Linked DNA regions of Homo sapiens. The protein of the gene in region 1 purifies or fractionates together with the protein of each later gene. This does not show direct contact. Each region holds a gene or a part of one and is shown in the gene's direction. Other genes may lie near its edges.

Region 1 (3,500 bases):
TGGTGCCTGAACCGGCGGGAGTAGGAGAGGTGGGACAGTGCAAGAGCTTTTTGAGGGATAATGCCTGTTGGCAGGGTTGGTGTGAGGGTTGAGGGGTGGATGTCAACAGAGATGATGCCATTTTCTACTTTGAGCTGACAGTGGTGCTCTTGACTAGTTTGCAGGGGAGGAAAAGATGGGGTATTGGATGAGGGAGGGGGAAGGAGATGGAGATGTTTGTGGTTGCAGACATGTGGAGTTTGAAGTGCTGTGGGCGCCAGGTGGAGTTGTCTGACAGGCAGTTGGAAAAGGCAGGTCTTAAGCTCAGACAGGAGATAAATATTGGGAGTCAGTGGCATATAAGAGGCGGTTAAAGCCATGGGAGGGGATAAGATTGCTGAAGAGACTGTGAGAAGAGAAGCGGCCAAGGACAGAATACCCCAGAGACAGGCTTAACCAAAAAGGAGCCAGAGGAGATGATGGGTGGGAACCATCAGTGGGAGCCAGTGGTAGGGAGAGAAGCAGGACAGGTTGGGTGGAGGGGACTCGGAGACTTAAGAAGCCTGAGTAGAAGAGCAGAGTTTGGGGAACCCAGAGTCTGAGAGTCTGACACTGGGGCTGTTGGCACTGCCTTGGGTGGGCTCAGGGATTGTGCCCTTCAAGCTTCAAGCGTGGAGTTGAGTTCCTCTGGTCTCCTTGCCCTTGTGTCATGCCCAAGGCCTGGCCTTACCTAAGGAAGGACTCAGTGGGCACTCAGGGAACTGAGTCACCCCATCTTGGTGGCAGGGCCTGCTGCTCATGCACGTCTATTTCATTTAGGTGGTGGTTGTCCAGGCCATCAGTGCCCTGTGTCAGAAATATCCTCGCAAACACGCCGTCCTTATGAACTTCCTGTTCACCATGCTGCGGGAAGAGGTAAGAGTCAGGGGCATTCGGGGGATGCCAGGTCTCCTGGTGCAGGGAGTGACCTGACCACTGGCTCCATGCTCAGCTTTGTGCGTGTGCTTATGTTAGCCTGTTAACCAACTGGTTTTCATGGTGCCTGCAACCCTTTAAACTCCTTGTGGACATGTAAACACGTACCAATTGCTAGTAATTACAGTAATAACTATGACTCACCAGCCTGACTTTAAAAACTGGATGTCCTGAGGTGATGCTTGTGCAGAAGATGGGAAAATGCATGTTCTTTTCTGGTGGACTCTAGTGCAGAAATATTCTAGACCATTCCAGGAGCTCTAGGAGTGGTTTCTTGTGAAACCGGTGCTAATAATACGACATTGGTTCTATTTCTGTTCCCGACGTGAATTACTGATTCACTTATGCCACCTTTCTTGGACGTCTCAACAAAATGGGTTAATTCTTAGGAGCAATAGCAGATGTTCATGGAGTAGATTTGTTCCTCAGATACATGGTACCCCTTTCACCCAGCCCCAGAGTGGCCCATGGACTAGGCAGTAGAGGAGCCATTGCCTTGAGTGTCTTTGCGTTTCCCAAGAATGTTGTTGTAGAAGGGCACTAATGTTTAGTGAGTTGTCAGCTAATGGGCCCAGCACTTTGGTGATTGTGTTTGTTTTTTTTAAGTAGAGATGGGGTCTTGCTGGGTTGCCCAGGCTGGTCTCAAACTCCTGGCTATAAGTGATCTTCCCACCTTAGCCACCCAAGTTCTGGGATTACAGGTGTGAGCCATCATGCCTGGCCAGGCCTAGCACTTTGGAGACACTGTATGCATGATAGCAGTTTTTTTTTTTTTCTGTTGAGTAGGAGTCTCGTTCTGCTGCCCAGGCTGGAGTGCAGTGGTGAGGTCTTGGCTCACTGCAACCTCCACCTCCTGGGTTCAAGTGATTCTCCTGCCTCAGCCTCCCGAGTACCTAGGACTACAGGTGCCCCCCACCACGCCCGGCTAATTTTTTATATTTAGTAGAGACAGGGTTTTACCATGTTGGTCAGGCTGGTCTCAAACTCTTGACCTCAGGTGATCCACCCACCTTGGCCTCCCAAAGTGCTGGGATTACAGACGTGAGCCACTGCGCCCGGCCTCCATCTGTCACCCAGGCTGGAGTGTGGTGGTGTGATCACGGCTCACTGCAGCCTCAACCTCCTGGGATCAAGCAATCGTCTCACCTCAGACCCCCAAGCAGCTGGAATTATAGGCATGCACCACCATGCCCAACTAATTTTTCTATTTTTTGTAGTGATGGGGTCTCTCCATGATGCCCAGGCTGATTTCGAATTCCTGAGCTCAAGTGGTCCACCCACCTCAGCCTCTCAAAGTGCTGGGATTATAGGTGTGAGCCACTGCACCTGACCAGCCTTTTGTTTGACAGGAAAGAGTGATAGAGGCCCAGAGAACCAAGTGCCCTGTCTCCAAGTTCTGTGTTTGGACAACTGTCCTTGGTCCAGCTCAGGTCTTCAACTCTTTTCTGGAGAGAGCAGGCTCCTTGCTTAGCTCAGCTTCTCTCTGCAGGGTGGCTTTGAGTATAAGCGCGCTATCGTGGACTGCATCATCAGCATCATTGAAGAGAACTCAGAGAGCAAGGAGACAGGGCTGTCACATCTGTGCGAGTTCATCGAGGACTGCGAGTTCACAGTGCTGGCCACCCGTATTCTACATCTCCTGGGCCAGGAGGGGCCCAAGACCACCAATCCCTCAAAGTACATCCGCTTCATCTATAACCGAGTGGTCTTGGAGCATGAGGAGGTCCGGGCAGGTAGGTCTGAGCCAGGGCTGAACTTGGAAACTTAGCTTACCCTTGAATAAATGTCCCAGCAAAGGGACCTGAGCCTCCAGTGGGGATTTGTGCACTCAGTGTTCTTGCTGCACAAGCTGTTTTTCATAATATTGTAGGCAGGACCTTACATGTCATCTAGTTGAACAGTTCTTTGTTTTTTGTTTTGTTTTTTTTTTTGAGATGGAATCTCGCTCTGTCACCAGGCTGGAATGCAGTGGCGCAATCTCAGCTCACTGCAACCTCCGCCTCCCGGGTTCAAGCGATTCTCCTGCCTCAGCCTCCCGAGTAGGTGGGACTACAGGTGTGTGCCATCATGCCCAGCTAATTTTTGTATTTTTAGTAGAGATGGGATTTCACCATGTAGGCCAGGATTGTCTCGATCTCTTGACCTCATCATCTGCCCGCCTCGGCCTCCCAAAAGTGCTGGGATTACAGGCGTGAGCCACCGTGCTCGGCCATGGTTCTTAACCCCTATAATTTTTTAAGTATTTTTTTAATTGAGACGGGGTCTTGCTATGTTGTCCAGGCTGGTCACGAACTCCTGGGCTCAAGCTATCCTCCTGCCTCAGTCTCTGAAAGTGCTGGGATTACAGAGCCACTGTGCCTTGCCTTAAGTGATTTTTTTTTTAACTTTCACTGTATGTTGATGTTTAGCTAAAAAACAAAAAGCTTTGTTGAGATATAATTCACATGCCATAAAATTCACCCATTTATATAAAGTTTACAATTCAGTGAGCAACCTTCCTATTCTTTATTTTTAATTTCTTTTCATGCCCCCACTGGACAGATTTT
Region 2 (3,500 bases), on another chromosome or scaffold:
GAGGTCAGGAGATTGAGACCATCCTGGCTAACACGGTGAAACCCCATCTCTACTAAAAATACAAAAAAAATTAGCCGGGCATGGTGGCACGCGCCTGTAGTCCCAGCTACTCAGGAGGGATTTTCCTACTAAGGCAGGAAAATCGCTTGAACCCAGGAGGTGGAGGTTGCGGTGAGCTGTGATCGTGCCATTGCACTCCAGCCTGGGCAACAAAAGTGAAACTCCATCTCAAAAAAAAAAAAAAGAAAAGAAAAGAAAAAAAAGAAAGAAGCCAGTTCCTTGGTGTAGTTAATTTACTTTGAGAGGTATTTGCCAGTTGGGATATGTCCTAAAAAGTGACTGACATTTTATTCAGGGCCTGGTATATCTTGAGCTCAGTGCTAGCTAGTATTTTTACTTTATCCAGTGTAACCTTCATGACTGTCCTGTGAGGTGAGAATCATTTTCCCTATTATACCTATGAAGAAACAGATTCAGAGAAATTAAGTTATTTGCTTAAGGTCACACAGCAAGTAAGAGGAAGGACTGGAATTCAAACCCAGGTCTCTCTGCTCTGTGATATTGAATTGCCTCTGGGACTGTGACACATGAAGAAGAACTGAAAAGACCAAGGCTAAGAGCCTGGGGGAACATGATACCTCATTCAAATACTTGAAGATTGTCATGGGGAAAGGAAACTGGATGTTCTCTGTGATTCTAGAAGGCATCTCAGGATTAAATGACATAATTTCCAAGAAGGTAGACTTTGGTTTGATAGGAGATAATGTAGCTTTCTAAAAACAAAATGGGCTGCCTTGTGAGGGAGTGAGTTACCCATCATTGCAGATATTCAAGCAGAGAGTTTGCCACATCTTTTTTTTTTCTTTGAGACAGAGTCTTACTTCGTCATCCAGGCTGGAGTGCAGTGGCATGATCTCAGCTCACTGCAACCTCTGCCTCCCAGGTTCAAGTGATTCCCATGCCTCACTTCATCTTCCAGGCTGGAGTGCAGTGGCATGATCTCGGCTCACTGCAACCTCTGCCTCCCAGGTTCAAGTGATTCTCATGCCTCAGCCTCCCAAGTAGCTGGAATTATAGGCATGTACCACCACGCCCATCTAATTTTTGTATTTTTGTAGAGATGGGGTTTCACCATGTTGACCAGACTGGTCTTGAACTCCTGACCTCAGGTGATCCGCCCGCCTCAGCCTCCCAAAGTGCTGGGATTACAGGTGTGAGACACCGCGCCCAGCCCCGGCTAATTTTTTTGTATTTTTATTAGAGACAGGGTTTTGCCATGTTGCCCAGGCTGGTCTTGAACTCCTGAGTTCCACCTGCCTCGGTCTCCCAAAGTGCTAGGATTACAGGCATGAGCCACCGCTCCTGGCTTTTTTTTTTTTTTTTTTTTTATGAGACAGGGTAGATGGGAAGACAGGTGTGTGCCATCACGCCTGGCTAATTTTTTAATTTTTTCATAGAGATGGGGTTTCACTATGTTGCTCAGGCTGGTCTCAAACTCCTGGGCTCAAGCAGTCTGCCTACCTCAGCCTCCCAAAGTCCTGGGAATACAGGTGTGAGCCACCATGCCCAGCCTCCCTGTCTGTTTGATCTGTAAAACCTAACATGGCTTGGCACGGTGGCTCACACCTGTAATCCCAGCACTTTGGGAGGCCTAGGTGGGTGGATTGCTTGAGCCCAGGAGTTTGAGACCAGCCTGAGCAACATAGTGAAACCCAGTCTCTACAAAAAGAAAATTTAAAAATTAGCCAGGTGTGGTAGCATGTGCCTGTATTCCCATCTACCCAGGAATCTGAGGCGGGGGCATCACTTGAGTGCAGGAGGCAGAGGTTGCAGTGAGCCAAGACTGCGCTACTGAACTCCAGCATGGGCAACAGAGACCCTGTCTCAAAAAAAAAAAAAAAAAAAAAAAGCCAGTTGTGCAGTGGCTCATGCCTGTAATCCTAGCACTTTGGGAAGCTGATGTGGGCAGAGCTCAGGAGTTGGAGGCCAGCCTGGGCAACATGGCAAACCTGTCTCTACTAAAAATACAAAAAATTAGCCAGCCGTGGTGGTGCACACCTGTAATCCCAGCTACTTGGGAGGCTGAGTCATGAGAATTGCTTGAACCTGGGACGCAGAGGTTGCAGTGAGCCAAGATCGTGTGCACTCCAGCCTGGGGGACAGAGTGAGACTCTGTCTCAAAAAAAAAAAAAAAACCAAAAAAACCCAAAAAAACTAACATGTATTGAATATTTAGTATATACCAGGCACTTGCTAGATACTTTTTCTTTCTTTTTTTAAGACAGAGTTTTGCTCTTATTGCCCAGGCTGGAGTGCACACGATCTCTGCTCACTGCAACCTCCGCCTCCTAGGTTCAAGCAATTCTCCTGCCTCAGCCTTCTGAGTAGCTGAGATTATAGGTGCGCGCCACCATGCCTGGATAATTTTTGTATTTTTTTAGTAGAGATGGGGTTTCACCATGTTGGCCAAGCTGGTCTCGAATTCCTGACCTCAGGTGATCCACTCACCTTGGCCCCCCAAAGTGCTGGGATTACAGGCATGAGCCACCAGGCCCAGCTCTACTTTTTCTATAATGTCTCTTATAATCTTCAGAGCTCCCCTGGAAGGAAGGTATTACCATTATCCCCACTTTACAAATGAGAAACTGAGACTCTAGACTAAAGTTAAGGAATATGCTGGAGGTTACACAACTAGTAGTGTAGGGCTGATATTTGAACCCATGTCTCCTCCTTAGCTCTGTGACCTAGGGCCAATCATGTATCCTCTCAGAGCTATAGTTTCACCTATAAAATGAGGCTTATTGTAGTACCTACTTTTTAGTGGGTTTTTGAGGACTAAATGATGAAATATATCCTTTTTACTAGACCTCACTGATTGCCCTCAAGAGCCAGGGCTTGGATGTAAAGGAATACCACTTAGTTGGCTTCTTCTGGGTAAATTCAGGCCTATGTGTAACTCTGAGAGTTCTAGGGCCCATTCTTTGAGCTATTAAGTAATAGCTGCTGACTCCTTGAAGGGCTTTGTGGCATTGAAGACTAATACCTTAAAAACTTTTAAGCCTGGGCTGGGCGCAGTGGCTCATGCCTGTAATCCCAGAACTTTGGGAGGCTGAGGTGGGCGGATCACAAGGTCAGGAGTTTGAGACCAGCCTGGCCAAGGTGGTGAAACCCTGTCTCTACTAAAAATACAAAAATTAGCCTGGCGTGGTGGCGGGTGTCTGTAGTCCCAGCTACTCAGGAGGCTGCGGCAGGAGAATCGCATGAACTCAGAAGGTGGAGGTTGCAGTGAGTTGAGATCGCAACACTGTACTCCAGCCTGGGTGACAGTGAGACTCCATCTCAAAAAAAAAAAACAAAAAAACTTTAAGCCTGAATAAGGGGAGGATGCAGTCAAAAGGCCAGAGTGTATAGGAGGCAGTGTCAGAGGCCCTGTGCAAAGAAAATTCTCAGCTACTACTGCAGAGCCAGATTTGAGGGTCACCGTTGGCATTTTTGTATTT
Region 3 (3,500 bases), on another chromosome or scaffold:
TGATATGTCTTGTCCATGTAGTCATTTATAAAATTGCTAATGGCTTTTGCCCAGTAATCATTCAGGGCAATATTGAATGTGAATTTTTACGTACTGTGTGAATCTTACACAGTTCTTGACTCTCAGGAACAGAACTCTGCCTCTAGCATCGTGGTAAAAACCACCACCACATTGTGGTCTAATTCGCAGTTCCATGGTTGTTGGCTCTAATTCTGGGGTGGTCTGGGATTGTTCCTGGCTTTGCTTTACTTAGACCCCCTTTTGTAAGGTATTGAGGATGACATATCCCCCTGGTATGTGCTTCATGGGTCAAAAGACTATGCGACAGGACTGGTCTTTCTCCTACCTTCTTTCTCACCCCCCACTTCTGCCTCATTAGGACTCTGCCCTTGTCCACAAGGAGAGCACACAGGAGAGAATGGCTGCTGTGTCTCCGACCACCAGATGCCAGGTGAGGTGGACTTTTGTGTTCCCGAAATACTCCATTCATCTCCAGAATGTAACCACTTTTCTTTCTCTATCCTGGAGCCTCTTTGAGCAGACCCAGCCAGGCAGATGAAGGACTCCACAGGGAGTATTTCTTTCCTATTTGACTTGAGGTATCCTTTAGTGACCTTTTCTTGCTGTGAGCATGTGCCCATTAGCTTGTCACCAGGCTTAACAACTCCTGGAGCCTTCACTGTGAGTGATTTTGCCTAGAAGCCAATGGTAGGGTCTGATTGGAAGGTTTGGGGAATAGTGGGCTGGTTCTGGTCCTGACAGTCCCTTTGGTACATTCATGTGTGGACTGAGAGGAGGCTCCAGTGTTCCAGGGAGTGTGGGGCTAGGCTGGGGCGTGTGATACACACTGTAGAGCACCTCTGTGGGGTGCTAAGAGCCCTGAAGAGAGTCTCCTGTGCTAGAGACTGTGTGGCTTGCTCCATTCCTGCCCGAGGGCAGAGTCTTAAATTCTGCATCCTGGCCTAGAACTTTTGCAGACACACTGGAGACTCATCTGAGGTTTTAGAACTGAAGGTAAAGAGATGCAATCTTACAGAATCACAGAGCATTAGAATGAAATGAGAGGGATCCTACAGATGATCTAATCAACACCATTATTCTAAGGATTTGTAAAAAAAAAAAGACAATTGGTGAAATTTGAGTAAGATTGTAGATTAGATAATAGTATAAGATCAATGCTATTTTCTCCATTTTTTATAGTTATACTGTGATTATAACAACAGTACATCCTTGTTTTTACAAAATACACACTGAAATATTTAGGATTAAAGACACATGATGTTGACAAGTTAGTCAAGAGGCCTAACAAAAAGATAGGAGAATGTGTATCTAGAGAGAGACAGAAAAATAAAGTAAATGTGGAAAATGTTGACAGTTGAGGAAGCCAGGTGAAGGGTACACAGGAATTTTTTTGTGCTGTTTTTAGAAGTCTGAAAAAAGAGTCTGATATTCAGAAGCTCAGCTGTAAGTATAGTGGTGTGAGATTCTGACCAAGAACTTCATGTCTTGGGTGATGAGGCCACTTTTCCCAAATGCTTTAAAGTTCTACTCAGTCAGAACTGTTTTTCTTTCCTCCCACCATGCGTCCTCCAGGGCTGTCATCTTTGACATTTTTGGTCTGGTCCAAGTAAAGAGAAGGATTAAGAGTAAGGGAGAATGTGATTGTATTTTCAGGAATCAGTGACATTCGAAGACGTTGCCGTGGTTTTCACAGATGAAGAGTGGAGTCGTCTGGTCCCCATACAGAGGGACCTCTACAAGGAGGTGATGCTGGAGAACTATAACAGCATTGTGTCATTGGGTAAGGGGAGCCTCCATGAGGAGGTACAGTCTGTACTATGCTAATGTGGGGCTGAGAGGGCTGAGGAATTAATACCGTTCTCCTCCCCGCTGAGTTCTGAGCCACCTGAGAGATAAAGTAAGAGTCGAAAGATGTGGCATCAGAGTACAGCAACGGCGGGCTCAATACTGAACCCCAGCATTGGGCAGACATGCCTCCCCAGCCATGGGCAGTGCTGGATGACCATAGGCTCTCTCGCTCAGCAGCCTGCCCGGCAAAATTCAGGGAGGGCCAGCGAGGGCTGAGGGACAGAGCGGAATGTGTGTTAGAGGCAGGGAGCTGGCGCTCCAGAGGGGCAGGCAGAAGACGCTGAGTTTCATATGCCCAGTTCTCCCAGTTCGCCAGTTAGGTAACTCAGCTCACCCAGAGGAGTGTGCGCTGGGGTAGGGGGCCATCTTGTCGGAATTCAGGGTTGTGCCTCTGAGGTCACCAGATATATGTTTGATTTTGAATATTTGTCTTAGGTACAGTCTTAGATGCTCACAGAAGACACTTTGTAATTATAGAGACTTGTGTGACAAAGAGAAAGTTAAGAGTCACTGCTGATTCTGGTGTTAGTGAAAAGTAAAGTTGGGCTCCTGGAGGTTATGAGAACCTTTCAGGAGCTTCACGAGAGGCTGAGAGAGTGCCCAGATTGAGAAACCGGCTTAAAATAAGCAGCAGATGGCAGTAAAAGGAGTCACATTGCAGATTTCCTACGAGGCAGGTCAAAAAGTAAGTGCTAACACCCCCCAGATTAACTTAATCAGGCCAATTGTCTCCCAAACAGAATGGAATATTCAGGAGGCATCAAAGGAGCATTTGTTACAGGCTTTAGTAGATGGCATATTGAGGAAAATAGAACCCCTGAGGTCAGGGACAGAGAGCCACAGGGAGATGCTGGGTGTGGCCGTTTTGTCAACAGAGAATCCACAGAAAACCCGGTAGACAATCCTTGGGCCCAATAAGAAAGTGCCTCTTTCCCAAGTTGGGGCCTCAGCAAAAGGGAAGTTTAGAGCCCAAGCCTATTTCCAGGATCTATTTTTTAATATAACCAAAAATGGATAGATTTGCTTCAGGGAATTTATCCTAAGGAAATAATAGGACTAGTAGTCCATGGTGTATGCAGATGTTCATCACACTATTGTTTGTTAATAGCAAAACGTTAAAAATGGTCTAAATTTCTATCATAAGGGAATTCATTAAATAAATTATGTTATCCATACAATGTCATATCCCGTAGCCATTACAATGGTGAGGTAGATCAGTACTGATATAAATAAAATGGTATTTTAAATTTATTGTGTGAAAAAAAATCAGCTTTACAAATCAGCGTCATTTCATTATCCAGGTTTGGTTTTTTTTGTTTTTTTTTTTTTTTTGAGACAGAGTCTCACTCTGTTGCCTAGGTTGGAGTGCAGTGATGCAATCTCGGCTCACTGCAACCTCTGTCTCCAGGGTTCAAGCAATTCTCGTGCCTCAGTCTCCCAAGTAGCTGGGATTACAGCCATGGGCCACCATGCCCTGCTAATTTTTGTATTTTTAGTAGAGACAGGGTTTCACCATGTTGGCCAGGCTGGTCTTGAACTCCTGACCTCAGGTGATCCACCCATCTCGGCCTCCCAAAGTGCTGGGATTACTGGCAGGAGCCACTGTGCCCAGCCTCATTATCCAGTTTTTA
Region 4 (3,500 bases), on another chromosome or scaffold:
AGCACCCACCCCTCCACCACCAGAAGGAACCACACCCAGCAGTTCTAGAGTTGGCTAAGGTCTTAGTATACTTACTCTTGCCTGTGATGATGTTTTCTCTGGCTTTGTCAGTTAGAAACCTTAAAGACTGCCAGCAAGAACAAGGCATGAAAATGGTATGCCTCTGTTTTGGGTGTGTTGCTCTTGCCCTTTGGAGAATATGATATTTTATAAGGAGACTGGAAAACTCAGGTCATAACTTTACCCTGAGTCATACATGAATCTACTCAGCAAAGTGTTTCTGTGACTGGTTGGTTACTTTGTATTCAGAACTCTTTGAATGGTAAGGATAAACACCAAGGCTGACTCTACTCAGTGGTTCTTAACCTATGGTAATATTGCCTCTTCCTGCCCCTGGAGCATTTAGCAATGACTGGAGACGTTTTTTGGGTGTTAGAACCTGTTGTGGGGAGTGTTACTGGTATCTAGTGGGTAGAGGCCAGGGATGCTGCTCAATAGCCTGTAGTGCGTAGGATAGCCCCCCACAACAGTTGTGCAGCTCCAATGTCAATATGTCAGTAGTGCTGAGGTTGAGAAACCCTAGTCTACACTGTCATTTTTTTTTTTTTTTTTTGATACAGAGTCTCGCTCTGTCACCCAGGCTGGAGTGCAATGGCGCGATCTCAGCTCACTGCAGCCTCCATCTCCCAAGTTCAAGTGATTCTCCTGCTTCAGCCTCCCGAGTAGCTGGGACTGCAGTCATGCACCACCACGCCTGGCCAATTTTTTTGAATTTTCAGTAGAGTCAGGGTTCCACTATATCGGTCAGGCTGGTCTCAAACTCTTGGCTGCAAATGATCCATCCGCCTTGGCCTCCCAAAGTGGTGGGATTACAGGCGTGAGCCATTGCACCCGGCCCACTTCTCAGGAATCCTAAACTCTTGGGAGGCTGAGGTGGGAGAATCACTTGAACCTGGGAGGTGGAGGTTGCAGTGAGCAGGAATGACGCCACTGCTCACCAGCCTGGGCGACAGAGCAAGAATCTGTCTCAAAAAAAAAAAAATGCTTTCTAATTATACAAAGATTTTCAACATTTTCTACATACTTGAACTGATGAGTGATAGAATATTATCATGAGCTATTTACAGCAATGAAGTAGTCCCCATTATCTGAGGGGCATATATTGTAAGGCCCCCAGTGGATGCCTGAAACTGCTGATAGCACTGAGCCCTGTATACACTACGTTGATCAGTGAGAAGGCTACTAAATAACTAATGGGCATGGTAGCATATACAGTGTGGATACTCTGGAAAAGGGAATGATTCATGTCCCAGGCAGGATAGCACAAGATTTCATCATGGTACTAAGAACTGCGTTGCAATCTTAAGACTTACGAATTGTTTATTTCTGGAATTTTAAACATATGTTGTAAATTCACATAAATACATATGAATGATAGATGTAACAGTGGTCCAGCTGTAGCTTTGTGTCTGTGCAAAAACATCACGTTATCCATATTCATGTAAGTAATGTAATACAGCATTAACTGTTGTTGCAGTATGCAGAATTAGACCTTGGAAAATAATTGCTTCTCTAAAGGGACAAGGCATGTAAAGTTGCCACTTACAGATATTTTTAGTACCCTCCCCGGAGACTAGATCTCCAGAGTTTAAGATTCCTGACAAGTGGACCGGGCACGGTGGCTCATGCCTGTAATCCCAGCACTTTGAGAGTCTGAGGTGGATAGATCACTTGATCGCACGGTGTGCGATCCACCCCCCTCGGCCTCCCAAAGTGCTGGGATTACATGCATGAGCCACCACACCCAGTTAGCACTTGACCCATTTTAGTGATGAAACTGAAAACTAGACATGCCCAGGATCACACAGGTTGTTAGTGGCAGGGCTGGAACAGGAACTTGTGTTTTGAGTCCTAAATTTGTATATTTCCACAGGTTACTTCTGAGAGTAAGCAGGTGAATCTGTCCCTTAGGCAGTTGTACATTTAGACTAAATGCAAGTTAGAGATCTGTGAAGTTGTATCATCCAAATAGAGGGTAGGCCGGGCGCGGTGGCTCACGCCTGTAATCCCAGTACTTGGGGAGGCTGAGGCGGGTGGATCACCTGAGGTCAGGAGTTCGAGACCAGCCTGGCCAAGGTGGTGAAACGCCACCTCTACTAAAAATACAAAAATTAGGCGTGGTGGTGGGTACCTGTAATCCCAGCTACTTAGGAGGCTGAGGCAGGAGAATTGCTTGAACCCAGGAGGCAGAGGTTGCAGTGAGATGATACTGGGAGGCTGAGGTGGGAGGATTGCCTGAGCCCGGTAGGTTGAGGCTGCAGTGAACCATGATTGCACCACCGCACCTCTAGCCTGTGCAACAGAGTGAGACCCAGTCTTAAAAAAGGTGTAATATATAAGCAGCTCCATTTAACTTGCATTATTGGTGTGTACAGCTCAAAATAATTCTTCCCTTACATAAGCCCAAACCCAAGGATCACTGTCAGTGAACAACATCTTTTTTTTTTTTTGAGACAGGGTCTTGCTCTGTTGTCCTGATTGTAGTGCAGTGGTTGACTTACTGCAACCTCTGCCTCCCAGGTTCAAGTGATACCAAGTAGCTGGGATTACAGGCGCGTTACCACCAAGCCTGGTTAATTTTCATATTTTTAGTAGAGATGGGGTTTCGCCGTGTTGCCCAGGCTGGTCTCGAACTCCTGATCTCAGGTGATCTGCCTGCCTCAACCTCCCAAAAGTGCTAGGATTATAGGCGAGACCTCCCATGCCTGGCCAACAAGATCTTTTTTAATCTGGTGGGTGTTGATAATCATGCTTATATTACTGGTGTGAAGAGAAATGCAGAATCACCCCAGCTCTTCCAACTAAACAGAGCCTGGTTCCCTTCCTTTATTCTTGGGTACCGTGCTACAGGGAGAGGAAGAGATGAGTAAGGACTTTTCCCCCATAGCTGTCCTCAGTAGTCTTCAGCTTCTCTTGAAGTGCAGTTCACTGTACACAACTGTATACATTCTTCTTTTTTTTTTTTTTTTTTGAGATGGAGTCTCACTCTGTCACCCAGGCTGGAGTGCAATGGCTTAATCTCAGCTCACCGCAACCTCCGCCTCCCGGGGTTCAAGCGATTCTCCTGCCTCAGCCTCCCGAGTAGCTGGGATTACAGGCATGTGCCACCACGCCCAGCTAATTTTGTATTTTTAGTAGAGACAGAGTTTCTCCATGTTGGTCAGGGTGGTCTTGAACTCCTGACTTCAGGTGATCCACCCACCTTGGCCTTCCAGTGTTGGGATTGACAGGCATGAGCCCCCATGCCCAGTCTCAACTGTATACATTCTTATCATTGGATTACCCCATCTTGTAACCACGTAACTTTATCTTCCATGTCTACTGCTCTGACAATGCCACTTGGATCCTTTGGGTTGTAGCCTTCAACCACATTATGGTACATGTCATTCATTCATTTTACAATAGTTTATTGGCCGGGTGCGGTGGCTCACGCCTGTAAT

What was found. Proteins that work in one complex are often made in the same cells at the same time.
Region 2: the proteins of COPG1 (region 1) and WDTC1 purify together in Homo sapiens (co-immunoprecipitation; one large-scale study listed by IntAct). This does not show direct contact.
Region 3: the proteins of COPG1 (region 1) and ZNF2 purify together in Homo sapiens (co-immunoprecipitation; one large-scale study listed by IntAct). This does not show direct contact.
Region 4: the proteins of COPG1 (region 1) and ATL3 purify together in Homo sapiens (affinity purification with mass spectrometry, with the first as the bait; one large-scale study listed by BioGRID). This does not show direct contact.

Annotation. Positions count from the first base shown.
Region 1 is NC_000003.12:129,263,106-129,266,605, forward strand, and holds part of COPG1 (coatomer subunit gamma-1), read left to right. Parts: intron 1-798; coding exon 799-894; intron 895-2,443; coding exon 2,444-2,687; intron 2,688-3,500. UniProt on the Homo sapiens protein: The coatomer is a cytosolic protein complex that binds to dilysine motifs and reversibly associates with Golgi non-clathrin-coated vesicles, which further mediate biosynthetic protein transport from the ER, via the Golgi up to the trans Golgi network.
Region 2 is NC_000001.11:27,237,632-27,241,131, forward strand, and holds part of WDTC1 (WD and tetratricopeptide repeats protein 1), read left to right. Parts: intron 1-3,500. UniProt on the Homo sapiens protein: May function as a substrate receptor for CUL4-DDB1 E3 ubiquitin-protein ligase complex.
Region 3 is NC_000002.12:95,175,809-95,179,308, forward strand, and holds part of ZNF2 (zinc finger protein 2), read left to right. Parts: intron 1-379; 5' UTR 380-418; coding exon 419-451; intron 452-1,674; coding exon 1,675-1,801; intron 1,802-3,500. UniProt on the Homo sapiens protein: May be involved in transcriptional regulation.
Region 4 is NC_000011.10:63,664,877-63,668,376, reverse strand, and holds part of ATL3 (atlastin-3), read left to right. Parts: intron 1-3,500. UniProt on the Homo sapiens protein: Atlastin-3 (ATL3) is a membrane-anchored GTPase that mediates the GTP-dependent fusion of endoplasmic reticulum (ER) membranes, maintaining the continuous ER network. It facilitates the formation of three-way junctions where ER tubules intersect.